Regions from separate parts of the Homo sapiens genome. Here region 2 is linked to region 1. Evidence: fine-mapped expression QTL. A gene starts in region 1. The other region holds a variant in brackets. All regions are shown on one strand. Distances are from middle to middle.

Region 1 (15,680 bases):
TCTAAAAAAAAAAAACTAAAGGCCAGGCACAGTGGCTCACGCTTGTAATCCCAGCACTTTGGGAGGCCGAGGCAGACAGATACCTGAGGTTGGGAGTTCAAGACCAGCCTGACCAACATGGAGAAACCCCGTCTCTACTAAAAATACAAAATTAGCTGGGTATGGTGGCACATGCCTGTAATCCCAGCTCCTCAGGAGGCTGAGTAAGGAGAATCGCTTGAACCTGGGAGGCGGAGGTTGCAGTGAGCCAAGACTGCCCCACTGCACTCCAGCCTGGGCGACAGAGTAAGAATGCATCTCAAACAAAAACAAGAACAAACAAAAAAACAAAGTCTGTCCTCTGTCGCCTATATGTTATACTTACCAGCTGCATTCCACTTAGTTCATCTACCAAAGTCATATTTCCAGACATAATTTTCTTTAGTGAATCATTAAATTCACTTAGTTGCTCCAGAGTTTCCTTTTTGGTTTCTTCATATTCATCTGTATCAAGTTCCTCTCTGAAATAGGTGAACATCATGATATGGAAAAATGAAGAGTTCCAAGTGAAAAATGCAATCTTAATACTTGTACATTAGAGAAAGACTGAAGGGAAATATCAAAATGCTGATGGTGAATGTGTTCACATAGTAGTAGTGAGGGCATTTTCCTGCAATATAGTTACTTTGGTAAACATTTTTCTTTTACCAAAATGAGGATACTTAAGAAACCACATAATAAAGCAGGGTGCCGTAGCTCACACCTGTAATCCCAGCACTTTGGAAGGCTGAGATGGGCAGATCACCTGAGGTCAGGAGTTCGAGGCCAGCCTAGCCAACATGGTAAAACCCCGTCTCTACTAAAAATACAAAATTAGCCGGGCATGGTGGTGCATGCCTGTAATCCCAGCTACTCGGGAGGCTGAGGCAGGAGAATCGCTTGAACTTGGGAAGCAGAAGTTGCAGTGGGCTGAGATCTCGCCACTGCACTCCAGCCTGGGCAATACAGCAAGACTCTGTCTCAAAAAAAAAAAAAAAAGCTGCAATGAACTGTTGTGGTCCTTTGTGCAGGTAAGGCTGAAACTACATGCCAGAAGTTCAAGTAGTACCTTCTTAGCCTGACAGCAGGTAGGACTGATTTAAATACTAAAGACAAAGTAGGTGTTATTTCTACTTCAAGGAAGGTAAGTATTTTGCTCAAGTTCACATGCACTTAGTAGTTAACTGAATGACTTTCATTTCCCAGCCTTTATGACTCCAAAGCCTGCAATAAGTTTACTTCTCTAATAGACAAAGCACTGCAAAGAACACTACAGGGGAATGCAGAATCATCACACATGGGCCTGCATCCACGGAGCTAGCTGCAGAAAAAACGCCAGTTTCCAGCATAACAACATACAATTAAACTCTTACCTGCATTCCTCCAGATCTTGTAATTGTTGCATGAGTCTATCCAACTGTTCTTCTAAATTCTGCTTTAATTTGCTTGTCTCTGTCTTTCCTCTGGAAGCCATTTTAATCTCTATGTGAAACAATAAACCCACATACCATATGAAATTAACATACCAGTGCAATTTTTTTAAGTTTTATTTTTTGTAGAGACAGAGTCTCACTATGTTGCCCAGGCTGGTCTCGGAACATCTGGCCTAAAGTGACCCTCCCATCTTGGACTACCAAAGAGGTGGGATTATAGGCATAAGCCACCACACCCAGTCCCTAGTGCAATTAAAAATATGCAGCTGCGGCCAGGCGCCGGTGGCTCAGGCCTGTAATCCCAGCACTTTGGGAGGCCGAGGCGGGTGGATCACAAGGTCAGGAGATCAAGACCATCCTGGCTAACATGGTGAAACCCCATCTCTACTAAAAATACAAAAAAGGCCGGATGTGGTGGCTCACGCCTGTAACCCCAGCACTTTTGGAAGCCGAGGTGGGTGGATCACCTGAGGTCAGGAGTTCAAGACCAGCCTGAGCAACATGGGGGAAACCCCATCTCTAAAGAGAAAAAAAGGCCAGGCACGGTGCTCACGCCTGTAATCCCAGCACTTTGGGAGGCTGAGGTGGGCGGATCATGAAGTCAGGAGATTGAGACCATCCCGGCTAACACGGTGAAACCCCGTCTCTCCTAAAAATATAAAAAATTAGGCAGGCGTGGTGGCAGGCGCCTGTAGTCCCAGCTACTTGGGAGGCTGAGGCAGGAGAATGGTGTGAACGCGGGAGGCAGAGCTTGCAGTGAGCCGAGATCACGCCACTGCACTCCTGCCTGGGCGACAGAGCAAGACTCAGGCTCAAAAAAAAAAAAAGAAAAAAAAATTACCTGTAGTCCCAGCTATTTGGGAGGCTGAGGCAGCAGGCTTGCTTGAACCTGGGAGGCAGAGGTTGCAGTGAGCTGAGATCACGCCACTGCACTCCAGCTTGGGCAACAGAGTGAGACTACATTTCAGAAAAAAAAAAAGGCAGCTGGGTGCAGTGGCTCACGCATGTCTGTAATCTCAACACTTTGGGAGCCTGAGGTGGGAGGATTGCTTGAGCCCAGGAGTTCGAGACCAGCCTGGCCAATATAGTGAGACTTCATCTCTACAAAGAATAGACAATCTTAGCTAGGCATGGTGGCGGATGCCTCTAGTCCCACCTACTCAGGAGGCTTAGGTGAGAGGACTGCTTGAGCCCAGGAATTTGAGGTTGCAGTGAGCCATGATCTTGCCACTCCACTCTGGCCTGGTTGACAGAGCGAGACCCTGACTCAAAAAAAAAAAAAAAAAAAAAAAAGCTACAGGTATATGAAAGATAGTTAAACAAAGAAAATCTTAATTTAGATATAAAAGTTTAAACTCATATAGTAATAACACCCCACAAAAATACCTGAAAGTCCTCTTTATGTGACTTGACATATTAATTAGAAGTCTTCATTATTGGTCTATCTTACTCTAAACAAATTTGGTAAATGGAAATATATATATATATGTAGATCAAATGTGACTTTGCTTTATAAAATGAATCATTATAGCCCCAAACACTCCAGATATTATCTTATTGGTCTTATGTATATTGACCTAATTACTTGTGAGCATGAACTTTTTTTTGAGATAGGGTCTCACTCTGTTGCCTAGGCTGAAGCACAGTGGCACAATCATAGCTCACTATAGCCTCAACCTCTCGAGCTCAAGCCATCTTCCCACCTCTGCCTCCTGAGTAGCTGCAAACACAGGCACACACCACCACACCTGGCTAATTTATTTTTTTGTAGAGATGGGGTCTCCCATGTTGCCCAAGCTGGTCTTGAACTGGGCTCAAGAGATCCTCCCACCTCAGCCTCCCAAAATGCTGGGATTATAGGTGTAAGCCCACAAGCCCAGCTGATGAACATCTTTTAATATGAATTTCTTCTTTGGAAATGTGACCATCTTTCTGCTGGGTTATCTTTCTCTTACTGATTTATAACATGGATACAAAGCCTTTGGCTTTTTTGAGACAGGGTCTTGCTCTGTCACCCAGGCTGGAGTGCAGTGGCATGATCATGGCTCATGCAGCTTTGACCTCCTAAGATCAAGCAATGAAGCCTTTGTAATTGCAAATATTATTTCGTCTCCTGACTAAATTTTATGTTTTTTTGTCATGGCAAATTATTATTTTTTAATAGACAAATCTATCTTCTCCTTTAAATCTTCTTCGTTTTGTGACCCATGAAGGCAGGCCCTAACCATCTCAAGATTTATACATCTTTATATTCAAGACTTTTACAAATTTTTGTTTTCTAGCTGCAGACAAAAGCCACCTGCAACATTTTTTGTTATGCTTTGAAGTAGGGGTCTAACTTTCCTTTCAAAAACACCCTTTACTAATCAGTCTTTTATTTATTGATCCAGGAGAATTTGGTCTACAATAAAGGTGGCATATTGATTAATAAATAAAAGACTGACTAGTAAAGGGTATTAGGGCAATTGGCTAGTCATTGATAATTTTCTGTTCCTAAGGAATCACTTCTTTTTTTTTTAGACTGAGTCTTGCTCTGTCGCCCCGACTGGAGTGCGGTGGCACGATTTCGGCTCACTGCAACCTCCACCTCCTGGGTTTCAGCAATTCTCCTGCCTCAGCCTCTTGAGTGCGTGCCACCACGTCCGGCTAATTTTTGTATTTTTAGTAGAAATGTGGTTTTGCCATATTGGCCAGGTCGGTCTTGAACTCCTGACCTCAAATGATCCACTCACCCCAGCCTCCCAAAGTGCTAGGATTACAGGCATGAGGCACCCCACTTGGCTTTTTTTTTTTTCTTTTTTTTTTGACACAGAGTATCGCTCTGTCACCCAGGCTGGAGTGCAGTAGGCTGGAGTGCAGTGATGTGATCTCAGCTCACTGCAACCTCCACATCCTGGGCTCAAGTGATTCTCCTGCCTCAGCCTCCTGAGTAGCTAGGATTACAGGTGTGCCACCACATCTGCCTTTTTTTTTTTTTTTTTTTTTGGTATTTTTAGTAGAGACAGTGTTTCGCCATGTTGGCCTTGGCCTCCTAAAATGCTGGGATTACAGGCATGAGCCACTGTGTCCAGCCCTCAGGCAACATTTCTTGCTATTTACATTATTATGGCTTTATCACTGATATATCTCGATAACTGATAATGACTTGCCTTTATTGTTTTCTCCTCCCCAAAATTCTTGGCTCTTCTTGTGCACTTTCTCTTCCAGATGAATTTAACAATCAGTATGTCAAGTTTCATTAAATATCCTATTGACTGGGGCCAGGCATGGTGTCTCACACCTGTAATCCCAGCACTTTAGGAGGCTAAGGCAGGCAGATCACTTGAGACCAGGAGTTACAGACCAGCCTGGCCGACACGGCGAAACCCCGTCTCTACAATAAATTAAAATATTAGCTGGGCATGGTGGTGTGTGCTTGTAGTCCCAGCTACTTGGCGGGCTGAGGTGGGAGAATCATCCAAGCCTTGGAGGCAGAGGTTGCAGTGAGCTGAGATTGTGACACTGCACTCCAGCCTGGGAGACAGAGTGAGACTCCTACTCAAAAAAAAACAAAAAACAAAAAACAAACCACAAAACTTTCCAGGTAACTTATTAAAACATGTTTTTTGTTTGTTTTGAGACAGAGTCTTGCTCTGTCGCCCAGGCTGGAGTGCAGTGGAGCAATCTCAGCTCACTGCAAGCTCCGCCTCCCGGGTTCACACCATTCTCCTGCCTCAGCCTCCCGAGTAGCTAGGACTATAGGCACCCGCCACCACGCCCAGCTTATTTTTTTTGTATTTTTTAGTAGAGACGGGGTTTCATCGTGTTAGCCAGGATGGTCTCGATCTCCTGACCTCGTGATCCGCCCACCTCAGCCTCCCAAAGTGCTGGGATTACAGGCGTGAGCCACTGCACCCGGCCTAGTTTTTGTATATTTTTTTTAGTAGAGACAGGGTTTCACCATGTTAGCCAGGATGGTCTCAATCTCCTGACCTCGTGATCCGCCCGCCTCGGCCTCCCAAAGTGCTGGGGTTACAGGCGTGAGCCACCGCACACAGCATTAAAGCATGTTTTATTTTCCTACACATAATGAAATCATTACCAGATGATTTGACATGTGTACTTCATTGGAGAGGATTCTTACAGTATATTCAAAATTAAATATAATGACAAAAAATTACTACCTAATCTATTAAAATTGGCATAAGTCATCTATGATCATTAATGATATGCAAACATAAACAAGTATTATACCCAGAAGTGTAATTTATTGTAGCTACATCTTATGTATAATAGTTTAGTGGATTTTTCCTGGAAATTGTCCATTTTAATTTTTCTCTTAAGTCTGTGGAATTTTCCAGTAAAAGTCAAGGCAAACCCAAGATGTAACTGACAATGTCTTTTCAGAGTTAGTTTCCTACAGTCTAACCACACTGGATGACTTGCTGTTCCAAAAATGTCATGCACTTTTTTGAGCCTGCATTTTTTTTTCTACCTATGAAGCCCAGTTCATTCTTCAAAGTCTAGTTCAAGTGTCACCTTCTCTACAAGGTCTTCCTTGATTTCCTCCCAATCACTAGGTTGTGAATTATTTAAGTAGGGATTTTACCTTTTCTTTCTTTCGTTCGTTCGTTCTTTCTTTCCTCTTTCTTTTTTTTTTGATGGCGTCTCACGGTCACCCAGGTGGAGTGCAGTGGCATGATCTTGGTTCACTGCAACCTCTGCCTCCTGGGTTCAAGTGACTCTCCTGCCTCGGTCTCCCGAGTAGCTGGGAATGTAGGTGCCCGCCACCACGCTCAGCTGATTTTTGTACTTTTAGTAGAGATGAGGTTTCACCATGTTGGCCAGGCTGGTCTCAAACTCCTGACCTCAGGTGATCCGCCTGCCTCAGCCTCCCAAAATGCTGGGATTACAGGTGTAAGCTATCGTGCCTAGCCTTTACCTTTTTTTTTTTTTTTTTTGAGATGGAGTCTCACTCTGTCGCCAGGCTGGAGTGCAGTGGCACGATCTCGGCTCACTGCAACCTCCGCTTCCCAGGTTGAAGAGATTCTCCTGCCTCGGCCTCCCAAGTAGCTGGGATTACAGGCACGCACTACCACGCCCAGCTAATTTTTGTATTTTTAGGAGAGACGGGTTTCACCATATTGGCCAGGATGGTCTCGATCTCTTGCCCTCGTGATCTGCCTGCCTCGGCCTCCCAAAGTGCTGGGATTACAGGCGTGAGCCACCGCACCCGGCCTTTACCTTTTCTTTATACACCAGCATCCAGCACAATCTTGGACAGACAAAAAGTGCCGAATAAACAACTGGTAGATGAATAATGAGAATTGATTGCTTCTTCTTTAGCATTCAAATCTTTTTTTTTAAAATTTTTTTTGAGACGGAGTCTCGCTCTGTCGTCCAGGATGGAGTGCAGTGGCGCGATCTCGGCTCACTGCAACCTCAGCCTCCTGGGTTCAAGCAATTCTCCTGCCTCAGCCTCTCCAGTAGCTGGGACTACAGGCATGCGTCACCACATCTGGCTAATTTTTGTATTTTTAGTAGAGATGGGGTTTCACCATGTTGTCCAGGCGAGTCTTGAACTCCTGACCTCTGGTGATCCACTTGCCTCAGTCTCCCAAAGTGATGGGATTACAGGCGTGAGTCACCGCGCCCAGCTCAAATCTTATTCTCTATTTAGCACTTATTTCTGCCTTTAATTATATATGATTTTATTATAATACGTTATCTCCTCTGACTAAACTCTGGAGAACAGAATATGAGTCTGATTCCTCTCTCAGCTTTCTCAGTACCTAATACAGAATAGAACGTCGATAATTTGGTCACGTATATAAAGGCTCAACATATTTTAAGGAGCTAAAGCTATTCTGAATACATTTCAGTAAAAATGGGTGCATTTTAAAAGCCTTAACCTGGTACTACATTAGTTGAGATTTATCCCCGAAAGATTAACTCGTTGGCACCACCTAGTAGTCACTAAATGTGGTGCACTTTTCACTTTTACGAAACTACAGAAACCGCTCTCAGACACTATATCTGGAGCGGAGGGTCCTCATTCATGCTCACCTGTCTCTTAGTACTCTGATCTCTGCACAGTGCCGACCGGTCTCAAATTGCACAAACCTCCAGTTCTTGACGTTCCGAGTGTCATAAACTTGAGGAAAATGAAATTATTCATCAGGACTACAAAAGGCTCAAAGTTCAAACCACCTCGGGGTGGAGATGCTGGAAAAAAGGAAACCATTAACAAGTAATTTTATTTGCTATATATAAACTTGCCCTAAGGCAGTCCAGATAACTTCCACTTGAGCAGCCTGAGACATCAAGGGCGGGGGCACTTTCCCCCTCGACTGCGCCTACCGCAGCCTTTCTGAGTTTCTTCCTAGCGAGGCCGAGAGGGTCTTTGAGGAAAATCCCGCATCCGGACACGCCTTGAGGGATGGCGTCAAACCCAGAGGCTTGGAAAAGGTAAGGGCGGAGAGCACGCCTCTTCCTTGAAAGTGAGGAGGGTTTGGCCCAGAACCAACAGGACTGGGTGAAGAATCAGCTCCGGCCACCGCAGCAAATCCCACCCCACGCGGGAACTTGAAGTCCGGCACGTAGGTCCCGCGGCGGCCGGGCTCCAACAGGCCCCAATTGCCACCAGAGGTAGCCGTAAACCCATGGTCCCCGAAACTCCTTCCGGGCCTACCTGACAAAAACTGGGACAACCTCCTTAGGCCCCCGGGATTCCCCCTGTGCCGCCTGACCGCCCGCCAGTCCCAGAGTTTAGGGCCAGGGGCCCCGCCTACCTGAGGGCACTGGCCTGGCGGACCGCGCCGGGGGAGCACTTCCGCTGGACGCACGCACTTCCGGCCCCCTGGAACCAATGAGAGTGCGACCGAGATGTTCCACTCGCTGGCGTCCGGGCCGCTGGTGATCTCCGGTAGCACTCGGGCCGGCGGACAGTGAGGGCGCGGTAAGCTCCCCGCAAGGAGCCCCTGAGAAACTGGTCGCTTTTTGTCCTAGATATAGGGGAGTCCAGGATGGTGTGGTGGAGTCTTTAGAGTCGAATATGACCCGAGGCAAGCTCATATTCAGGTTTGGGGCAAGGAGCTTTGATTGACCCTTAATTTTTTCAGTGGAACGGAAAACTTCGGTAAAATAGCTTCTGACCTTCGGAACAGATGGATTCACCTTGGAAAGGAAAAATCTCTTTCTAGAAGAGTCTTGAGGTCTGGCACCTTTAGGCTTAACGGGGGACGGCTGGGCGTCAGAGGAGGAAATCCTTCATTCCGAACGACTTCCCTTTCCTCCTAAATCCTTCTTTCCAAATCTGTAAAAGACTACATCTACTTTGCTGGAGGTGGTTTGACACTCATGCTCCTTGAGAAGGAGGTAATGAGCTGTAGGGCAGCTCTTAAAAAGTTACCCTTGGACGGGCGCGGTGGCTCACGCCTGTAATCCCAGCACTTTGGGAGGCCGAGGCAGGCGGATCACGAGGTCAGGAGTTCGAGACCAGCCTGGCCAACATAGTGAAACCCCGTCTCTACTAAAAATACAAAAAATTAGCTGGGCGTGGTGGTGGGCGCCTGTAATCTCAGCTACTCGGGAGGCTGAGGCAGGAGAATCGCTTGAATCCTGGAGGCGGAGGTTACAGTGAGCCGAGATCGCGCCATTGCACTCCAGCCGGGGCGACAGTTCGAGACTCCATCTCAAAAATAAAAATAAAAAAAAGTTACCCTTGGCTGTCGCGGTGTGACACCTGTAAACCCAGCACTTTGAGAGCCCGCGGTGGGAGGATCATTTGAGCCCAGGCTGGGCAACATAGCAAGACCCTCATAACAAAAAATTAAAAATAAAATTACCCAGAAACTGGTTGGAACTATTTAATGATGTTCTTAGTCCATCTTCCTGAAGTAGTCCACAGAACAACATCAGTGTTCATGGTAGAATTGTTTCATCAGGGCAGTTTTTTTTTAAGTAACAATGTCTTGTTAAAAAACAAGAGCTGTGTTGCCCAGGCTGGAGTGCAGTGGTGTGATCATAGCTCACTGCAGCCTTGAACTCCTGGGCTCAAGCGATCCTCTGGCCTTGGCCCCTCAAAGTGTTGTGGTGATTGGCACAAGCCACCGACAGGCCTGGAGTCTGAAGTTAGTTATATTTCAGCTACCCAGGATAAACTTCTAACTATGATTACCACAGAACTCTACCAAAACTAATTGTTTCACTTAGTTCTGTCTGATTATGGAATCTCTTTATTACCATCAGTTGTTTTTCAGAGTTACAATTTGAATATGAAACCATTTTTCTAGCCCACCTTAGAGAAGACTGTTGACACACTAGTTGAAATGGTTGCAATAGCCTCTACCTTGCAAGACACTTCAGATTCAAAGAATTTCCTTTGCAAAAGTCGGCCGGGTGCAGTGGCTCATGCCTGTAATCCCAGCACTTTGGGAGGCCAAGGCGGGCAGATCACTTAAGGTCAGGAATTCAAAACCAGCCCGGCCAACATGGTGAAACCCCATCTCTACTAAAAATACAAAAATTAACCAGGCGTGGTGGTCCATGCCTGTAATCTTAGCTACTCAGGAGGCTGAGGCATGAGAATCGCTTGAACTCAGGAGGTGAATGCTGCAGTGAGCCAAGATCACGACGCTGCACTGCAGCCTGGGTGACAGAGCAACTCCGTCTTAAAAAAACAAAACAAAACAAAACAAAAGAAGAAAAAAATAAAAGTACCTATTAATGCAATTATCTTTCAATTTTGATTCATAAATATGTGTGGAAGTGTCAATGTTTTGGGTAAAATGGAATTCACAGTGACAGAGTCAGTGCCATACAAAACAAAACTGGAAAATATACTTTAAAAAAATTATTTGAGCTGGGTGTAGTGGCTCACACCTGTAATCCCAGGACTTTGGGAAGCCGAGGTGGGCGGATCACGAGGTCAGGAGTTTGAGACCAGCCTGGCCCCTATGGTGAAACCCTGTCTCTACTAAAAATACAAAAAATTAGCTGTGCATGGTGGCGTATGCCTGTAGTTCCAGCTACTCGGGAGGCTGAGGCAGGAGAATTGCTTGAACCCGGCAGGCGGAGGTTGCAGTGAGCCGAGATCGTGCTCTTCAGCCTGGGCTACAGGGTGAGACTCGGTCTCAAAAAAATAATAATAATAATTTGAAAAATTTGCTGAATAAACATTTGTTCACAGTGTACTTTCCCTGATTTTTTAATTTTTGTTTTTGTTTGCCCTGTCACCCAGACTGGAGTACAGTGACACGAGCACGGCTCACTGCAGCCTTAATCTCTCAGGCTCAAGTGATCCTTGCACCTCAGCCTCCCTAGTAGCTGGGACTTCAGGTGCATGCCACCACATCCGGCTAGTTTTTGTATTTTTTGTAGAGATGAGGTTTTGTCATGTTGCCCAGGCTGGTTTCAAACTCCTGGGCTCAAGTAATCCTCCCACCTTGGCCCCGCAAAGTGCCGGAATTACAGGCATGAGCCACCCCACCCAGCCTTCCCCTAATTTTGATAATGATAATCCAATGTTCTGTTCTGGCATTTGTGTAGTTTTAGCGTGTGCAGTCTTCGAAGCAGTGGAGGTATTTGCCTTTTCTTCTCTGTGACTTAGTCATTCAGCAGTTCTATGCTAAGGGTTTTTTTATATGCCTTTAGGTTCTTGTTTAGAGTTAATGGATAATGAAAACATTTCTAATGCATAAGAGAAATGCATTCTGAAACAAAAATAGAATACAAGCCTTCAGACAGAAGGCAGAGAAGAAACTGGAGAAAGAGAAATAAGATGTTAGGTAGGAAACCATGGGAGACAGCACTGGGGAAAGTAACCTCCAGACTGGGAGTCACTGGGAAACCAGATAAATGCTCCTTGGCAGCGGGAGGAGTTGAGGACACTTCAGCTTGGTCTTGGGATGGGAGCCCAGAGAACGCAAGTTGCTCCAACTAGGTAGGGAAAATGCTGGGACAGATGAAACTTGAGTGGCTAACAAGAAGTACCAGGAGCCAAAGGCTCTCTGAACACTTGGGCCTCTTTTAAATGTCTGCCTTAAATAGCTTGTACCATTGTAAGTCTTGCATAATGGGTGAGAACATGAACTTTTAGAATCAAAGATGTCACTCTAGGTGTGGTTGTATTTGGAGTAAGGAAATAATTAAGGTTAAATGAGGTCATAAGTGTGGGGCCCTGATCCGATAGGACTAGTGTCCTTATCAGAAGAGTGAATGGAGAGCTTGCCCCTTACCCTTACATACTGAAGAAAGATTATGTGAGGACTAGCAAGAAGGTGGCCATGTACAAGACAGGAACAGAGCTGCCACCAGAGACCAAATTGGCCAAAACCTTGATCTTGGGCTTCTAGTCTCCAGAATGGTGACAAAGTAAATTTCTGTTGTTTAAGTCACCCAGTCTGTGGTATTTTAGTATGACAGCCCAAGCAGACAAATACACCATCTATATGCAGATACATCCAAATCTCTAGTCTGTTGTATGTCTGTACCTCTCCCCTGAACTTGGCTTTGTTCTCCACTTGCCTACTTATTGTCACCACTTGGATATATAATAGATGTCTCAAACTTCACTTCTCTGTAAACTGAACTCCTGATAGTCCCCTCAAGCCTACTCCATAGACATCTTTCTCTTCTCTTTTTTTTGGAGACAGGGTCTTGCTGTGTCGCCCAGGCTGGAGTGCAATGGCGTGATCATGGTTCACTGCAGCCTTGAACTCCTAGACTTAGGTGATCCTCCCACCTCCGCCTCCCAAGTAGGATGTGAGGGCAACCTGGCTGTGACATCTCTCACCCCGTTGATCACCAGGGTTGATCCGGCTGATCTGGCTGGCTAGGCCGGTGTCTCCTTCCTCCCTCACTGCTCCATGTATATCCCTCCCGAAGCTGCACACTCAAGTCGAAGAGAACGACCATCCCCAATAGAGGAGGACTAATCTTCGGTCAAGGGTATATAAGTAGCTGCGTTCCCCTGCTAGAACCTCCAAACAAGCTCTCAAGGTCCCAGGTAGCTAGGATTACAGGCACACGCCATCATGCTTCACTATCATTCTCTTCTCAATTAAAGGTAATACTGTTCTTTTAGCTGCTTAGGCCAAAAACTTTTGGAGTCATGCTTGACTTTTCTTTCTTTCACAGCCCACATCCCATCCATTGCAAATCACATTGGCTGTATGTTCCAAATACACCCAGAATTGAGTGACATCTTATCACTTTGCTACCACCATCAGGGCCAGGTCAGCATCACCTGTCACCTGGATTATTGCAGTAGCCTCCCATCTTATGTCTTCACTTGTACCCTTGCCTCTCCCTACATTCTGTTTTCAGCTTCAACTGCTAGAGAGATCCTTAAAAATATGTCAGATCATGTCACTCCTCTGCTCAAAGCCCTGCAGTGGTTGATGAGGTCTAGAGAATGTGTTGTTTCTAAATAATTTCTGTTAATCATGGTAATATAATTACTTCAAAGGAATTTCATTCTTATTGTGTGATTGCTCGCATTTCTAATTCCTAACTTAGTGCTGTGTCTGGGATGTGGAAGGTGGTCCGAAAATGTTGGTGGCGTCAAGGGATAGTGGGTATATATTAGGTAACCTCTCCAGATGAGAACAGATGAACAGTCATTTCCATGTGTTCAGGTGCTGTGCCTGTCAGAGATACTTTGGGAGATTTTATACTGAATACGTTCTTCTTGCCCATTAGTACTGTTCTTTTTCTCAAGAAATGGAGTTGTCGGCCAGGTGAGGTGGCTCATGCTCGTAATCCCAACACTTTGGGAGGTTAAGGTGGGCGGATTGCTTGAGCCCAGGAGTTCGAGACCAGTCTGGGCAATATAGTGAAACCTTATCTCTACAAAAAAATACAAAAGAGTAGCCAGGTCTGGTGGGGCATACCTGTAGTCCCAGCTACTTGGGGTAAGGGCTGAGGTGGGAGGATGGCTTGAGTCCGGGAGGTGGAGGTTGCAGTGACTGTGCCATTGTATTCCAGCCTGGGTGATAGAGCGAGACCCTGTCTCAAAATGAAGTGGTATCCAGTCCTTAATGACATTGGGACCATTTGTGAGTAACTAGTCCCTAACAAAAATACTTCAGAATTTTTTTTTTTTTTTGAGACAGAGTTTTACTCTTGTTGCCTAGGCTGGAGTGCAATGGCCCCATCTCAGCTCACTGCAACCTCCGCCTCCTGGGTTCATGTGATTCTCCTGCCTCAGCCTCCTAAGTAGCTGGTACAGGCACCCGCCACCATGCCTGGCTAATTTTTTGTATTTTTAGTAGAGACGGGGTTTCACCATGTTGGCCAGGCTGGTCTCGAACTCCTGACCTCAGGTGATTCACCCACCTGGCCTCCCAAAATGCTGGGATTACAGGCGTCAGCCACTGTGTCTGGCCCGGAATTGTTAAATATACACTGAAGTAAAAAGACAAAACACGGCTGGCCATGGTGGCTCACGCCTGTAATCCCAGCACTTTGGGAGGCCGAGGCAGGTGGATCACCTGACGTCAGGTGTTCAAGAGCAGCCTGACCAACATAGTGAAACCCCATCTCTACTAAAAATACAAAAATTAGCCGGGCATGGTGGCAGGCACCTGTAATCCCAGCTACGTGGGAGGCTGAGGCAGAATCGCTTGAACCCTGGAGGCGGAGATTTCAGCGAGCCGAAATCACACCACTGCACTCCGGCCTGGGCAACAGACCAGGACTCTGTCTCAAAAAAAAAAAAGAGAAAGACAAAACACAATGCAGGTCACTTAGCTATTTTCTCTAGAAAACAATTAGCTGTCATGATGCAGAAGATTGTTATAATCTATAAGGGGGAGGTTGTGGTTATTTTTACTCTAAAATCTTCCACTGCTTTTTTTTTTTTTTTTTGAGATGGAGTTTCACTCTGTCACCCAGGCTGGAGTGCAGTGGTGCAATCTTTGCTCACTGCAACCTCCACCTCCTGGGTTCAAGCGATTCTCCTGCCTCAGCCTCCCGAGTAGCTAGGATTATAGGTACACACCAAGAGGCCCAGCTAATTTTTGTGTGTGTATATATATATATGTATGTGTATATATATAATTTTTTTGTTTTTTTTAGTGGAGACGGAGTTTCACCATGTTGGCAAGGCTAGTCTCAAACTCCTGACTTCAAGTGATTCGCCCACCTCGGCCTCTCAAAGTGCTGGGATTACAGGCATGAGCCACCGTGTCCGGCCCCACTACATTCTTAAAGAAGCAATAAATTGACCTTGTTTAAATACACAATCTGAATTACTGGGGTCTTTTGAAACTAAACCTTTGTTCATTACTAAGATTTCTATTTTCCTTCCTCTTTTTCAGCACTTATTTCTATAGCAGTCTCCCAGCTGATGCCACTTAACTTCATTGAACAAAAAATGAGGTTTAGAAAATCACAATAATCATTGTGAAAGTATTTGATAGGAGATCTTTATTTGGGGTGAATTGGGTTATGATGTCAGTCCTGTGATTTCAGCGGAACTGTTTCTTTTTATCCATTGTCAGTGAGTGCTCATTAATACTTAAATGCAGCTTTCTTTTTCTTTCTTTTGAGACAGAGTCTCGCTCTGTCACCCAGGCTGGAGGGCAGTGACGCAATCTCGGCTCACTACAACCTCTGCCTCCCGGGTTCAAGTGATTCTCCTGCCTCAGCCTCCCAAGTAGGTGGGATTACAGGCACCTGCAACCATGCCCGGCTAATTTTTGTATTTTTAGTAGTGACAGGGTTTTGACATGTTGGTCAGGCTGATCTCGAACTCCTGACCTCAAGTGATCCGCCCGCCTTGGCCTCCCAAAGTGTTGAGATTATAGGCATGAACCACCACGCCTGGCATAATGCAGTTTTCTACTAAATGACTGATTTTGACATGCTTCCTGTTATTGGCCCTGCTGTTCAGCTGAAATAGCAGGATAGGAGATGGTCGTGTGATGGCCGATAGGTGGCAGTGCTGCTGGGACAGGCCCAGCCTGGTAGAGACGAGTATCTCAGACAGGAAAAACAGGACCCAGATGGCTCAGACTGTTGGGTTAGCATCTGGCCTTCGACAGGTCACCCTGGCCCGCCAGATCAGCCCCAGGCCTGACAAAAGCACTACAGGATAAAGAATAGGATCTCATTAAATGCAGTGGAAGTAACGTGAGAAGGATGGCTTTTCATATGCCATCCTAACCCTCCCCTCCCCCCGTTTTCTTTGCTTTGCTTTTCATACTTCTTAGCTTCTTGGATCTCTTGCTTTAAGAGGAACTAGGG
Region 2 (15,680 bases), 73 kb after region 1:
ATGATACAGTATTAAAGGAAACATCAGGCCAAGCGTGGTGGCTCACACCTGTAATCCCAGCATTTTAGGAGGCCGAGGTGGGTGTATCACTTGAGGTCAGGAGACTAGCCTGGCCAACATGGTGAAACCCCATCTCTACTATTTTTTTTTTTTTTTTGAGATGGAGTATCGCTGTGTCACCAGGCTGGAGTGCAGTGGCGCGATCTCGGCTCACTGCAACCTCCACCTCCTGGGTCCAAGCGATTCTCCTGCCTCAGCCTCCCGAGTAGCTGGGACTACAGGCACGCACCACCACACCCAGCTAATTTTTGTATTTTTAGTGGAGACGGGGTTTCACCATGTTGGCCAGGATGGTCTCGATCTCTTGACCTCATGATCCACCCGCCTCGGCCTCCCAAAGTGCTGGGATTACAGGCATGAGCCACCACCACACCTGGCCCATCTCTACTGAAAATACAAAAATTAGCCGGGCATAGTGGCGCATGCCTATACTCACTCTCATCTTATATTAAATGAAACAGCCGAATATTCCGACAGAGGCAGGAAGATAACATGCAAATACTCATGGAACAATTCTTACCTATTATATGTAATAGCTACTTTATGTATACATAGATATGCATAGATAGATATAGTAGCTCACATCTTTGGAGTGATTATTTTGGGCCCAATTACTGTGCTCAATCCTTTGAGTGCATTATCTCATCTAATCTTCACAACCCTGTGAAAAGGACGCCATTTTTCCCATTCACAAATAAATTGGGATTTTGAAATTCCCCAAGGCTGCTGTCAGAAGCATCAGAATCCAGTTTAAAAGGGTTTATTCAGACTGGGCGAGGTGGCTCACGCCTGTAATCCCAGCACTTTGGGAGGCTGACGTGGGCGGATCACGAGGTCAGGAGATCAAGATCATCCTGGCCAACATGGTGAAACCCCGTCTCTACTAAAAATACAAAAATTAGCTGGGCATGGTGGCACATGTCTGTAATCCCAGCTACTTGGGAGGCTGAGGCAGGAGAATTGCTAGAACCAGTTAGTCGGAGGTTGCAGTGAGCCAAGATCGCACCACTGCCCTACGGCCTGGTGACAGAGGCCGTTTCAAAAAAAAATAAAACAAAATAAGGGTTTATTCAGGCATGAAGATGAGAATGGCCACCCAGGAAACACAGACTCCAAAGAAATGGGGTCAGTACACCCAAGCTGAAAAGTTAATGTCTTATTTTTTTTTTTTTTTTGAGATGGAGTCTCTCCCTCTGTCACCCAGTGTCACCCACGCTGGAGTGCAGTGGTGTGATCTCAGCTCACTGCAACCTCTGCCTCCTGGGTTCAAGCGATCCTCCCACCTCAGCCTCCCGAGTAGCTGGGACTACAGGCATGCACCACCACACCCAGCTAGTTTTTGTATTTTTAGCAGAAACGGGATTTTACCATATTGGCCAGGCTGGTCTCGAACTCCTGACCTCAAGTGATCAGCCCACCTGGGCCTCCCAAAGTGTTGGGATTACAGGCGTGGCCGCTTGTAATAAAAATTTAATTTCTTGGAATGTAATTCTTGGAGTTTTTCTTTTCCTTTCTTTTTCTTTTTCTTCTTTTACTTTTAAGCTGTTGGACTTGAGGTGTTTTTCTTTAATGGCTTTATTGAGGTATACTTTATGTACCAAAAAATGCACCTGTTTTAAGTGTACAGTTTGATAATTTCTAGTAAATGTATACAGGTGTACAACCATTCCCATTATCCAGTTTCAGACAAGTCAATCACTCCAAAACATTCCCTAGAGGCCATGTGCTGACAACTATTATTTTACAGCCTGTTTTGTTTTGTTTTGTTTTTGAGATGGAGTCTTGCTCTGTTGCCCAGGCTGGAGTGCAGTGGCATGATCTCAGCTCGCTGCAAACTCTGCCTTCTGGGTTCAAGCAATTCTCCTGTCTCAGCCTCCCAAGTAGCTGAGACTACAGGTGCATGCCACGACACCTGGGTAATTTTTGTATTTTGAGTAGAGACAGGGTTTCACCATATTGGCCAGGCTGGTCTCAAACCCCTGACCTCAGGTGATCCACCCGCCTCTGCCTCCCAAAGTTCTGGGATTACAGGCGTGAGCCACTGTGCCTGGCCTGTTTTTGTTTGTGTTTTTGAGACAGAGTCTCCCTCTGTCATCCAGGCTTGAGTGCAGTGGCGCAATCTCGGCCCCCTGCAACCTCCACCTCCTGGGTTCAAGGGATTCTCCTGCCTCAGCCTCCCAAGTAGCTGGGATTACAGGCACCCGCCACCATGCCCAGCTAATTTTTTTTTTTTTTTTTTGAGACGGAGTTTCGCTCTTGTTGCCCAGGCTAGAGTACAATGGTGCGATCTCGGCTCACCACAACCTCCACCTCCCGGGTTCAACGATTTTCCTGCCTCAGCCTTCCCAAGTAGCTGGAATTACAGGCATGCACCACCACGCCTGGCTAATTTTGTATTTTCAGTAGAGACGGGGTTTCTCCATGTTGGTCAGGCTGGGCTTGAACTCCCGACCTCAGGTGATCCGCCCACCTCGGCCTCCCAAAGTGCTGGGATTATAGGTGTAAGCCAGCATGCCCGGCCATGCCCAGCTAATTTTTGCATTTTTAGTAGAGACATGGTTTTGCCATGTTGGCCAGGCTGGTCTCGAATTCCTGACCTCAGGTGATCTGCCCGCCTTGGCCTCCCAAAGTGCTGGGATTACAAGCGTGAGCCACCCGACAGACAGAAAACAAAGAAATTTCGCAGGATTACAACATTTTCTATACAAAGCTGTTTTATGAGTTACAGGAATTTGATTAGTTACCACTCAGTTTTTTCCTTTTTCTTTCCAGTTTAAAGAATATATTTAACATTCTTTATTTTATTTTTCTTCCCCCTCATTCTTGCTGTCATCTTAAGAGTATATTTAACATTCCATCTTAGACAACGTGATAGTCATCTGTCTTTGTATTAGAGAAGGAAGAGGTTCACCTGCTTTGGGAAAAAAAAAGAGAGAAGAAACAGGGAAGTGAGTCTGTAATTAAGATCAACAGTAGAGGGAAGTCTTCTCTGGTGCCCTTTAGTTTTTTACAAAACAGTGTAGGTAAAGAAAAAGGCTAATCTATAACCAGAGAAATTAAGGTTATAGCTGTCTAGGTTACAGCGGCCTTTCACATGACTCAGGTCCCACAATCACATTCCTTTAAGACTCAAAATAATTTAAAGTTTCATCAGCTTTGATTGTGAATTACGTATTTTCACACTGTAGGGTGAAGATTCAAATACAGGTCTGACAAGAATGTGTGCTCTCAGCTCTGTGCTTTTTTGCCTCACTGTATGTGTGAAATCTAGGTGAGACCCATGAGAACAAAACTAGAGCACTGTCCTTAAAGTTGGGTCTGGGTAGTCTTTGAATACCAAGGCCTTGAAGATATTTTGATTCTAGATGGACAAATCTCACACTCTTCTGACGATAAAAAAGTAAGAGGTCAGGCATGGGATTACGGGTTCACGCCTGTAATCCCAGCACTTTGGGAAGCTGAGGCAGGCGGATCACCTGAGGTCAGGAGTTCGAGACCAGCCTGGCCAACATGATGAAACCCCATCTCTACTATAAATACAAAAATTAGCTGGGCGGAGCCGGGCGCAGTGGCTCATGCCTGTAATCCCAGCACTTTGGGAGGCCAAGGTGGGTGGATCACTTGAGGTCGGGAGTTTGAGACCAGCCTGACCAACATGGAGAAACTCCCGTCTCTACTAAAAAATATTTAAAAAAAAAATCAGCTGAGAGTGGTGGCGCATGCCTCTAATGCCAGCTACTCAGGAGGCTGAGGCAGGAGAATCACTTGAACCTGGGAGGAGGAGGTTACGGTGAGCCGAGATTGCACCATTGCACTCCAGCCTGGGCAACAAGAGTGAAACTCCATCTCAAAAAAAAAAAAAAAAAAAAAATTAGCCGGGCTGTGGCAGGCACCTGTAATCCCAGCTACTCAGGAGGCTGAGGCATGAGAATCGCTTGAACCCGGGAGGCAGAGGTTGCAGTGAGCCAAGATCATGCCACTGCACTCCAGCCTGGGGGATACAGCAAGACTCTGTCTCCAAAAAAAAAAACAAAGTAAGAAACTTGCCTTCGCAAATACGTAATATGGAATTTCAAAGAATATATACATATGTTTGAGGATTTAGATTAGTTGGTTTGTAAGAGGTAATGTTCAAATTATGCACAACAGCTGGGTGTGGTGGTACTTGCCTGTAGTTCCAGTTACTGGATAGGCCAAAGCGGGAAGATTGCTTGAGCCCAGGAGTTTGAGTCAAGCCTGGGGAACGTAGGACTAGCCTGTCTTTAAAAAAAAAAAAAAAGAAAAGGAAGGCTGGGCATGGTGGCTCACACCTGTAATCCCAGCACTTTTGAGAGGCCGAGGCAGGTGGATCACCTGAGGTCAGGAGTTCGAGACCAGCCTGGCCAGCATGGCGAAACCCCGTCTCTATTAAAAATACAAAAATTAGCCTGGTGTGGTGGCAGGCACTTGTAATCCCAGCTACTCGGGAGGCTGAGGCAGGAGAATCACTTGAACCTGGGAGGAGGAGGTTGCAGTGAGCCAAGAGCCAAGATCGCGCCACGGCACTCCAGCCTGGATGACAAGAGTGAAACTGTCTCAAAAAAAAAAAAAAAAAAAAGAGAAATACCAAATGTGTACATCCTTCTCTAGCATACCCTGGAAATCTGCCCATGCAGGGCACAGAAGTACTTTTGTTCTAAGGATACTCATGGAATGCTTCTTACTTACCATGATTTTTTTTTTTTTTTTCAGACAGAGTCTCACTCTGTCGCCCATCCTGGAGTGCAGTAGCTTGATCTCAGCTCACTGTAACCTCCTCCTCCTGGGTTCAAGTGATTCTCCTGCCTCAGCCTCCCAAGTAGCTGGGATTACAGGCGCCCGCTACCATGCCCAGCTAATTTTTATATTTTTAGTACAGACAGGGTTTCACCATGCTGGTCAGGCTGGTCTCAAATTCCTGACCTCAGGTGATCCACCCCCCTCAGCCTCCCAAAGTGCTGGGATTACAGGCATGAGCCACCGCGCCCAGCCACCATGATATATTAAAAAATATTTGGTTGCTGGGTGTGGTGGTTCACTTCCGTAATCCCAGCACTTTGGGAGGACACGGCAAGAGGATCACTGGAGTCCAGGAGTTTAATACCAGCCTGGGCAGCATAGTGTGACTCTGTCTCTACAAAAAATTGGCTGGGGGCAGTGGCTCATACCTGTAATCCCAGAATTTTGGAAGGTCGGGGCAGGTGGATCATCTGACGTTAGGAGTTGGAAACTAGCCTGGCTAACATGGTGAAATGCTGTCTCTACTAAAAAATACAAAAATTAGCCGGGTGTGGTGGCGGGCACCTGTAGTCCCAGCTACTCAGGAGGCTGAGGCAGGATAATCACTTGAACCCAGGAGGTGGAGGTTGCAGTGAGCCGAGATCGCGCCATTGCACTCCAGCCCGGGCAACAAGAGCAAGACTCCGTCGCAAAAAATTAAAAAAAATTAGCTGGGCATGGTGATGGGTGCCTGTAGTCCCAGCTACTTGGGTGGCTGAGGTGGGAGGATTACTTAGGCCCAGGAAGTTGAGGCTAAGGTGAGCCATGACTGCACCACTGCATTCCAGCCTGGGCGAAGGAGTAAGACCCTGTCTCCAAATAAAAAAGGAGTAAGGCCTTGTCTCCAAATAAAAAAAAAGATCTTTTGTGTGTTAACGACATGACTGTCTACTGAGGGTCCTTAGATAGCTTCAGGATGGGGGATGGTCACCAGAAAATCGAAGGCATGATTAGAGGGTTGGAACTTTCAGCCTCATCCCTGAGGGAAGAGGGGCTGGAGATTGAACTAATCACAAATAGCCATTGACTTAATCAGTCATGCCTATGTGCTGAAACATCCACTAAAAACTAAACCACGGGGTTTAGAGAGCTTCCATGTTGAACGGTGAACATTCATGTGTGTGGTGAATACATTGAGGTGCTGGGAGGGCTGTGTGCTCCCCCTTCCTACTTTGCCCTATGCGTCTCTTCCATCAGGCTGTTTCTTTTCTTTTCTTTTCTTTCTTTTTTCTTTTTTTTTTTTTGAGATGGAGTCTTGCTCTGTTGCCCAGGCTGGAGTGCAGTGGCGCAATCTTGGCTCACTGCAACCTCCGCCTCTTGGGTTCAAGCAATTCTCCTGTCTCAAGTGTCCTGAGTAGGTGGGATTACAGGCATGCACCACCACACCCGGCTAATTTTTGTATTTTTAGTACAGACAGGGTTTTGCCATGTTGGCCAGGCTGATCTAGAACTCCTGATCTCAGGCGATCTGCCCGCCTCGGCCACTCAAAGTGCTGGGATTACAGGCATGTGCGCCCGGCCCCATCAGGCTGTTTCTGAGTTGTTTATTTTATAATAAACTGGTAATAGTAAGTAAAGGGACTTTCTGAGTTTTGTGAGCCCTTCTAGCAAATTATCAAGCCCGAGGAGGGGTTGTGGGAAAACCTGATTTGTAGCTGGTCAGTCAGAAATATGGGAGGTCCCAAATTTGCGACAGGTGTCTGAAGCTGGGGGGAGTCTCGTGAGACTGCATCCTTAACCTATGCAGTCTGTGCTAACTCTGGGTAGTTAGTGCCCAAATTAAATTGGCTTACTGGACACTTGGTTGGTGTCAGAGAGTTGGAGAAGTGGGACTGGAAAAGACATCACACAACTGGTGTCAGGCGTTTAAAAACCCACACCTTTGGTGTCAGAAGTGTTGAGAGTAGGCCAGGTGTGGTGGCTTATAACTATAATCCTAGCACTTTCGGAGGGCAAGGCAGGAAAATCATTTGAGGCTAGGAGTTCAAGACCAGCCTAGGGGTCAGGCGCAGTAGCTCATGCTTGTAATCCCAGCACTTTGGGAGGCTGAGGCGGGCAGATCATGAGGTCAGGAGTTCAAGAACAGCCTGGCCAACATGGTGAAACCCCGTCGCTACTAAAAATACAAAAATTAGCAGAGCATGGTGGCACACACCTGTAATCCTAGCTACTCAGGAGGCCGAGGCAGAAGAATTGCTTGAAGGCAATTCCGCTTAAAGGCAGAGGTTGCAGTGAGCCAAGATTGCACCACTGCACTCCAGCCTGGGCTACAGAGTGAGACTCCATCT[C/CA]AAAAAAAAAAAAAAAAAGACCAGCCTAGGCAGTGGCAACCCTGTCCCTACAAAAAACACAAAAATTAGCCGGGCATGATGGCACGTGCCTGCAGTGTCCCAGCTACTTTGGGGGCTGAGGTGGGAGGATCGCTTGAGCCTGGGAGGCAGAGGTTACAGTGAGCCGAGATCTCACCACTGTACTTAGCCAGGACGACAGAGTGAGACCCCATCTCATAAAAGAAAAAAACATGTTCCAGAAAAGGGTTAAAACACAATAAAAAATAAGTGTTGAGAGTAAAAACAGACCACATGCAAACTGATCCTTCTTTTTCCCTTCCTCCTTACGCCCTAGGAAATGTTCTGTGAAGGTCAAGTGTGCAAACAGACATTCCAGAGAGCCTGATCCACATCCAGCAGCAGAGCCCACTTGTGGCTGCAGCTTTATGCCAAATTATATTGCAGACTGAACAGACGTTTATCTATCCCATTTGGCGACGAGGACTCGTGGCTGGAGAGAGCCACACAGCGTGTAACCTGAAGTCATCTAGATTATGGGGAAACTGCTCAGCTTCAATAAACCTGTCCAAATGACTCTGAAGTTTTTCCTTTCCGATTTAGGAAATCCCAGCATTTAAAAAAATATTTGAAAGTCTTCTAGGCACATGAGAGACACACCAGTGAACAAGCTGTCAGTCCTGCCTTCAAGGCTAGTGAGGAAGCTGGCCAAAACAAGCAACCTGAACAGCCACCAGAGCTCTGGGGGTGGGGGGCAGATGACTTTGAGGGATGGGCAGATGGTGATATTGACAGGGGTCTGGGATGGTGATTTTGTTTCTTTTCTTTTCTTTTCTTTTCTTTTTTTTTGAGACAGAGTCCTGCTCTGTCACCCAGGCTAGAGTGCAGTGGCTCCATCTCGGCTCACTGAAACCTCTGGCTCCTGGCTTCAAGCAATTCTCCTGCCTCATCTTCCCAAGTAGCTGGGATTATAGGCATGTGCCACCACACTCAGCTAATTTTTGTATTTTTAGTAGAGATGGGGTTTCACCATGTTGGCCAGGCTGGTCTCGAACTCCTGACCTCAGGTGATCCACCCACCTTGGCCTCCCAAAGTGTTGGGATTACAGGCATAAGCCACCGTGCCTGGCCAGCAGTTCCTCTTTTTTTTTTTTTTTAAACAACATTTAGAATCTCCCCAAGGGTAGCTTAGAGAAAAGAAAATCCAAGACAGGAAATCAGAAGCTATCTATGGGGGGAAAAATAACCTTAATAATGGCAAAGTTACACAAATAACAAACCAGAAAGGAATCATTCCAGAAGCCAAGAATTCAACCCAGATCACCCTTGTCAAAGGACAAAGCCTTAGCTACTGAGCTACACAGCATTGGGCAGTTTCCTTCTTTTTTTTTTCTTTTTTTTGACGGAGTCTCACTCTGTTGCCAGGCTGGAGTGCAGTGGCACAGACTCGGATCACTGCAACCTCTGCCTCCTGGGTTCAAGTGATTCTCCTGCCTCAGCCTCCTGAGTAGCTGGGACTACAGGTGTGTGACACCACGCCCAGCTAATTTTTGTATTTTTAGTAGAGATGGGTTTCACCAGGTTGGCCAGGATGGTCTCGATCTCTTGACCTTGTGATCCACCCACCTTGGCCTCCCAAAGTGCTGGGATTACAGGGATGAGCCACCGCACCCAGCCCTGGGCAGTTTCTATTGCTATTCCCAGAAGAAGTCTAGCCAAATTCAAGATTTCAAAGGCTCTTAACTGCTCAAGATAATTTTTTTTTTTTGAGACAGAGTCTTGCTGTGTTGCCCAGGCTGGAGTGCAGTGGCGTGATCTTGGCTCACTGCAAGCTCCGCCTCCCGGGTTCACGCCATTCTCCTGCCTCAGCCTCCCGAGTAGCTGGGACTACAGGCACCCACCACCACGCCTGGCCAATTTTTTTGTATTTTTAGTAGAGATAGGGTTTCACCATATTAGCCAGGATGGTCTTGATCTGCTGACCTCATGACCCACCCGCCTCGGCCTTCCAAAGTGCTGGGATTACAGGTGTGAGCCACCGCGACCGGCCTGCTCAAGATAATTTTTAGGGCTAACTATGACATGAACCCCAAAATTCCTGTCCTCTAGATGGCAGAAACCAAGATAAAGTATCCCCACATGGCCACAAGGTTAAGCTCTTATGGACACAAAACAAGGCAGAGAAATGTCATTTGGCATTGGTTTCAGGGACCCATAGCAACATTTGTAAATGACCAGCCTGATGGGCTGGCTTGAAAACTTGGCTTATAGGCATCCTAAACCCACGTTCTATCCCCTGATACTCCCCTCTTCATTACAGAACAACAAAGAAAGACAAATTCTTAGCATAAAGTACACCAGATTTGCTACAGCCTAAGACTGGTCTGACAAATCCTTTTTTTCTACTAATCAGACCCTCGCAGAGAAGACAAATAGTGGCATTTACCGTTTACACAACATATACAGAGAGAGAGAGACCAGAAACTTGGCTGGTAAGAATTTCTTCCTCTGGCCAGGAGCGGTGGCTCACACCTGTAATCTCAGCCCTTTGGGAGGCTGAGGCGGGTGGATCAGAAGGTCAAGAGATCCAGACCATCCTGGCCAACATGGTGAAACCCCGTCTCTACTAAAAATACAAAAATTAGCTGGACATGGTGGTGGGCGCCTGTAGTCCCAGCTACTCAGGAGGCTGAGGCAGGAGAATTGCTTGAACCCAGGAGGTGGAGGTTGCAGTGAGCCTAGATCACGCCACTGCACTCCAGCCTGGCGACACAGCGAGACTCCGTCTCAAAAAAAAAAATAATAAATAAGAAAAGGAAAAAAAAGAATACAACTCAGGAACAGCCAAATGGAGGAGATGCATGGGACAAGGTTTAGTGGGGGGCTGCGGAGCTTCCTTGCCCTCTGCAGGTGCACCACCCTTGCAGTGCGTGGATATGTTTGAGGCAGGAGACCAGGGTCTGGAGGCAGGGAACCTAAGGCTGTTTTGGGCTGACTTCCTAGAACTAAATTGAAAAGAAAATCCTAACTTTCCAAGCCTAAGTAACAAAAGGACCAGAGGCTACCCCTTTGCAAACCCCTACCTTTTCTGTGGCAGATGGGAAATTGTAAGTACCTCTAATTAATTAATTAATTGCCTTTTTTTTTTTTTGAGACAGAGTCTCTCTCTGTTGCCCAGGCTGGAGTGCAGTGGCACCATCTCGGCTTGCTGCAACCTCCACCTCCTGCGTTCAGGTGATTCCCCCACACTTACTGGGCTGCATTCCCAGAAGGTTAAGGCATTCTTAGTCACAGGATGAGATAGGAGGACAGCACAAGACACAGGTCACAAAGACCTTGCTAATAAAACAGGTTGTGGTAAAGAAGCCAGGAAAACCCACCAAAACCAAGATGGTGATGAGAGTGGCCTCTGGTCTTCCTCACTGCTCATCATACACTAATTATAATGCATTAGCATTAGCACCCACCACGCCCAGCTAATTTTTGTATTTTTAGTAGAGACGGGGTTTTACCATGTTGGCCAGGATGGTCTCCATCTCTTGACCTCATCATCCGCCCACCTCTGCTTTCCGCAACCAATCGGACTGATTACAGGCCACTACTTCACCTCATTTACATGGGTGAACACCCAGTGGCCAATGGGAAACCTCTAGTGGGTATTTGGACTGGAGAAAATTCTGTATCCAGGGCCCTTGAGTGGCTGCTGGGGCCCGCTCCCACCTGGTGAAATGTACTTTCATTTTCAATAACTCTCTGCTTTTGTTGTTTCATTTTTTTCTTGGTTGTGTGTTTTCTTAAACTCTTTTTTTTTTTTTTTTTTTTTGATGGAGTCTTGCTCTGTCACCCAGGCTGGAGTACAGTGGCGTGATCTCGGCTCACTGCAACCTCTGCCTCCCAGGTTCATGCCATTCTCCTGCCTCAGCCTCCCGAGTAGCTGGGACTACAGGCACCCGCCACCACGCCCGGCTAATTTTTTGTATTTTTAGTAGAGACAGTGTTTCACTATGTTAGCCAGGATGGTCTCAATCTCCTGACCTCGTGATCTGCCCGCCTCGGCCTCCCAAAGTGCTGGGATTACAGGCGTGAGCCACCGCACCTGGCCCTTGTTAAATTCTTTGTTCAAAATGCCAAAAACCTGGACACCCTCCACTGGTACTGAAGCTCACTGAACCTCCTTGTTCAGGAGTTTTCATAGAGCTCCATCTCCAGCCCCCTTCCCTCCCAGGAGGTTGGGGTGGGGCTGTTTCCACCCTCTAATCAAAGTCCTCTAATTTGGTCTTTCTGGTGAGCAGCCCCAACCCTGAGTCACATCATTAGCATAGACTCTGGTGTGTTCTAAAGGGGCTCCTTATGAATAGCAAAAGACAATCCTATCACTCAGGAAATTCCAAGGAATTTAGGAGCCCTGTGCCAGAACCAGGGAAAAAGACCAAATATATATTTCATTAAACTTTACTACATGATACAAACTACAGTTTGGAAAGACATTTAGGAATGGTAGAACAAAACAAGTGAGAAAATATAATATGTAAAAGGTCTTTTTGTCATTTCAAAATACAAGAGGTAGCTGGGCATGGTGGCTCACACCTGTAATCCTAGCATTTTGGGAGGCTGAGGCAGGAGGATCCCTTGAGCCCAGGAGTTGGAGACCAGCCTGAACAACATACTGAGACCCCGTCTCTACAAAAAATAGAAAATTAGTTGGGTGTGGTGGTCCATGCCTGTAGTCCCAGCTACTCCAGAGGCTGAGGTGAGGGGATAGCTTAAGCCAGGAAGTTGAGGCTGCAGTGAGCCAAGATTGTGCCAGTGCACTCCAGACTGGACAACAGAGCAAGACCCTGTCTCAGGGGGCTGGCCACGCATGGTGACACATCCCTGTAGTCTGAGGAGCTCAAGGTTGCAACAGTGAGCCATGATCGCACCATTCCACTTCATCCTGGGCAACAGAGCAAAACCCTATCTCTATGAAAAAAAAAAAAAAGCAAGAGGCTATCTTCTCTGAGGTTTACTATAGTTAACTTTTACAAGTATTTAATCATAATTGCTTAGATTGAATTCGGTTCAGTATATATTCCTGGAAGTTCACTATTATTATTATTACTAGGTCCTGAGAATATGAAACAACCATAAAAATGAGTGATGAATTCAATATATATTATTCTGACACTGAGAAGTATTGTAACAAAAAACAAGTTTCTAGGTCATACCAAAAGCCGGGCAAAGTGGCAGATTCCTGTAATCCCAGCTACTCAGGAGGCTGAGGGGGGAGGATTGCTTGAACCCGGGAGGCAGAGGTTGCAGTGAGCAGAGATAGCGCCATGCCATTGCACTCCAGCCTGGGCAACAAGAGTGAAACTCCATCTCAAAAAAAAAAAAATCCTTTCATGAAATTACTACCAGATGTTGGCCCTTCAGCACAACCAGCTTGGAAGCTTCATCCTTAGCAAAGAAAGATCTTCAAAGCAGGCACTTCCATGATCCACATACTTTGGATGCCCTTAAAGGGGGGGAAAAAGGGAGAGGAAGGGAGGAGAGGAAGAGGAGGAGAAATAGCATTTCAATTCTGCTTTAATATATATATATTTTTTGAGACAGAGTCTCACTCTGTCATCCAGGCTGGAGTGCAGTGGTGCAATCTCCGCTCACTGCAACCTCCACCTCCCGGGTTTAAGTGATTCTCCTGCCTCAGCCTCCCTAGTAGCTGGGATTACAAGTGTGCACCACCACCATGGCCAGCTAATTTTTGTATTTTTAGTATTTTTGTATTTTTGTTTCGCCATGTTGGTTGGGCTGGTCTCCAACTCCTGGCCTCAAGTGATCCACCCACCTCAGCCTACCAAAATGCTCGGATTACAAGTGTGGCCCCTTGTAATAAAAATTTAATTTTTTGGAATATGACTCTTGGAGTTTTTCTTTTTCTTTTTTTACTTTTGGACTCTGTTGGACTTGAGTTGTTTTTCTTTAATGGCTTTATTGAGGTATATTTTATGTACCATAAAATGCACCTAAGTGTACAATTTGATAATTTCTAGTAAATGTACATAGGTGTACAACCATTCCTACAATCCAGTTTCAGAACAAGTCAATCACTCCAAAAAGTTCCCTAGAGACCATGTGCTGACAACTATTATTTTATAGGCTTTTCTTTTTCTTTTTCTTTTTTTTCTATTTCTGTTTGAGACAGAGTCTCTTTCTGTCACCCAGGGTGGAGTGGAGTGGCACAATCTCAGCTCACTGCAACCTCTGTCTCCTGGGTTCAAGGGATTCTCCTGCCTCAGCTTCCCAAGTAGCTGGGATTACAGGCACTTGCCACCACGCGCAGCTAATTTTTGCATTTTGAGTAGACAGGGGGTTTCACCATGTTGGCAAGGCTGGTCTCGAACTCCTGACCTCAGGTGATCTGCCCACCTTGGCCTGCTGGAGGTATGTGACAAACTGATGGCAAATGGATTATGCCCCCAATGGACAGTGTTCTCAAACCGTGATCTGAGGACCCGGGGATCCCGAGACCTTTTAAGGGTATCTGTGAGATCAAAGCTATTTTCATAATAATCCTGAGATGATATTTGCTCTTCATTCTCTCTCTCTCATGAGCATATGGGAGTTTTCCAGAGACTTCCTGCCAGGCCACATCACAACTGACCTGACCCAGAAGTACATCTGAGAATTCAGCTGTCTTCTATTAAGCCAGACATTAAAGAGATTTGCAAAAATGTCAAACAAGGCCACTCTGCATGTAATAGGCTTATCTTAAAAATGAATTAATATGTCTCTTGGTTGCCGTTTCTAATACAATCCATCTGCCTCGGCCTCCCAAAGTCCTGAGATTATAGGTATGAGCCGCTGCACCCGGCCTAGCCTTTTCATATGGAGTCTCAGACAGTGAAATTCAGTCAATATATTTATAATGAATACTTTATTTTTTGAGATGGAGTCTTGCTCTTGTCACCCAGGCTGGAGTGCAATGGCGTGATCTTGGCTCACTGCAACCTCCGCCTCCCAGGCTCAAGCGATTCTCCTGTCTCAGCCTCCTGAGTAGCTGGAATTACAGGCATGGGCCACCACGCCCGGCTAATTTTTGTGTATTTAGTAGAGATGGGGGTTTCACTATGTTGGCCAGGCTGGTCTCGAACTCCTGACCTCATGATCCACCTGCCTCAGCCTCCCAAAGTGCTGGAATTACAGGCGTGAGCCACTGTGCCTGGCCTATAATGAATACTTTTTAATATTCTCTTTGTTTCTGTCCACAGCAAGAATCTTTATTTCCTGAGACCTTTTGTAGCAGATTATTTTCCCTCAGTTTCTTGCCCTTAAGAGTCTTCGGTTCTCCACAGATAAGAGTTTTGCTTTTGATATTTCCTCGACCTGCTCATAAGGATTTCATTATAACTTCTGGGTGCAATCTTTAGGAGAGTTTGCAAAACAGTCTTTTTTTTTTTTGTAATGGAGTTTCGCTCCGTCACCCAGGCTGAAGTGCAGTGGTGCAATCTTGGCTCACTGCAACCTCCGCCTCCAGGGTTCAAGGGATTCTTGTGCCCCAGCCTCCCAAGTAGTTGGGATTACAGGCGCCCGCCACCACACCTGGCTAATTGTTGTATTTTTAGTAGAGATGGGGTTTTACCATGTTGCCCAGGCTGATCTCAACTCCTTTTTTTTTGAGACAGAGTCTCGCTCTGTTGCCCAGGCTGGAGTATAGTGGCATGATCTCGGCTCACTGCAACCTCTGCCTCCCGGGTTCAAGCGATTCTCTTGCCTTGGCCTCCTGAGTAGCTGGGACTACGGGCACATGCCATCATGCCCGGCTAATTTTTGCATTTTTAGTAGGGACGGGGTTTCACCATGTCGGCCAGGATGGTCTTGATCTCCTGACCTCGTGATCTGTCTGCCTCAGCCTCCCAAAGTGCTGGGATTACAGGCGTGAGCCACCTCACCCAGCCAAGTTAGTATGTGTTTAAAGATCACACTTGTAATCCTAGCACTTTGGGAGGCTGATGTAGGAGGATCACTTGAAGCCAGGGGTTTGAGACCAGCCTGGGCAACATAAAGATTACAGGCGTGAGCCACTGAGCCTGGACCCTTCCCTCTCTTAATCTGTTCAGGCTGCTATAACATAATACTGTAGGCTGGCTACAGAGTTTTTAAAATTAGTATTTTTTTTTTTTTTGAGACGGAGTCTTGCTCTGTTGCCCAGGCTGGAGTGCAGTGGCGTGATCTCGGCTCACTGCAAGCTCCACCTCCCAGGTTCACACCATTCTCCTGCCTCAGCCTCCCGAGTAGCTGGGACTACAGGCGCCTGCCACCACGCCGGGCTAATTTTTTTATTTTAGTAGAGACGGGGTTTCACCATGTTAGCCAGGATGGTCTCGATCTCCTGACCTCGTGATCTGCCGGCCTCGGCCTCCCAAAGTGCTGGGATTACAGGCGTGAGCCACCACGCCCGGCCTAAAATTAGTATGTTTTTTGTTGTACTTGTTTTTGTTTTTGTTTTTTTTTTGAGGCGGAGTTTCACTCTTGTTACCCAGGCTGGAGTGCAATGGC

Which allele goes with the higher level. Alleles are on the strand shown, and positions count from the first base shown. SD is a standard deviation of normalised expression in the study named.
In carriers of allele C in region 2, the expression in monocytes of the gene that starts at base 8,264 in region 1 tends to be higher than with CA alone (moderate effect, 0.47 SD a copy in Quach 2016).

Evidence for each region.
Region 2: its variant is fine-mapped to the expression of LZIC in monocytes (Quach 2016, PIP 0.95).

What each region holds. Positions count from the first base shown.
Region 1 is chr1:9,935,128-9,950,807 of GRCh38, forward strand. LZIC (leucine zipper and CTNNBIP1 domain containing) reads right to left here and starts at 8,264. Exons shown (of 8, transcript NM_032368.5): 1 at 8,122-8,264; 2 at 7,497-7,655; 3 at 1,392-1,500; 4 at 365-500. The coding sequence starts at 1,492. NMNAT1 (nicotinamide nucleotide adenylyltransferase 1) reads left to right here and starts at 8,348. Exons shown (of 5, transcript NM_022787.4): 1 at 8,348-8,388. It also overlaps the pseudogene RN7SKP269 and the pseudogene TMEM274P. RefSeq lists enhancers at 3,697-4,197, 4,198-4,698, 7,293-7,863, 7,397-8,596, 7,864-8,433.
Region 2 is chr1:10,008,303-10,023,982 of GRCh38, forward strand. It overlaps RBP7 (retinol binding protein 7), which reads left to right. Exons shown (of 4, transcript NM_052960.3): 4 at 7,480-7,719. The coding sequence ends at 7,530. Among named protein-coding and RNA genes, the nearest start is that of UBE4B, 17 kb to the right of the region's middle. The variant C/CA (reference allele first, on the strand shown) is at 7,146.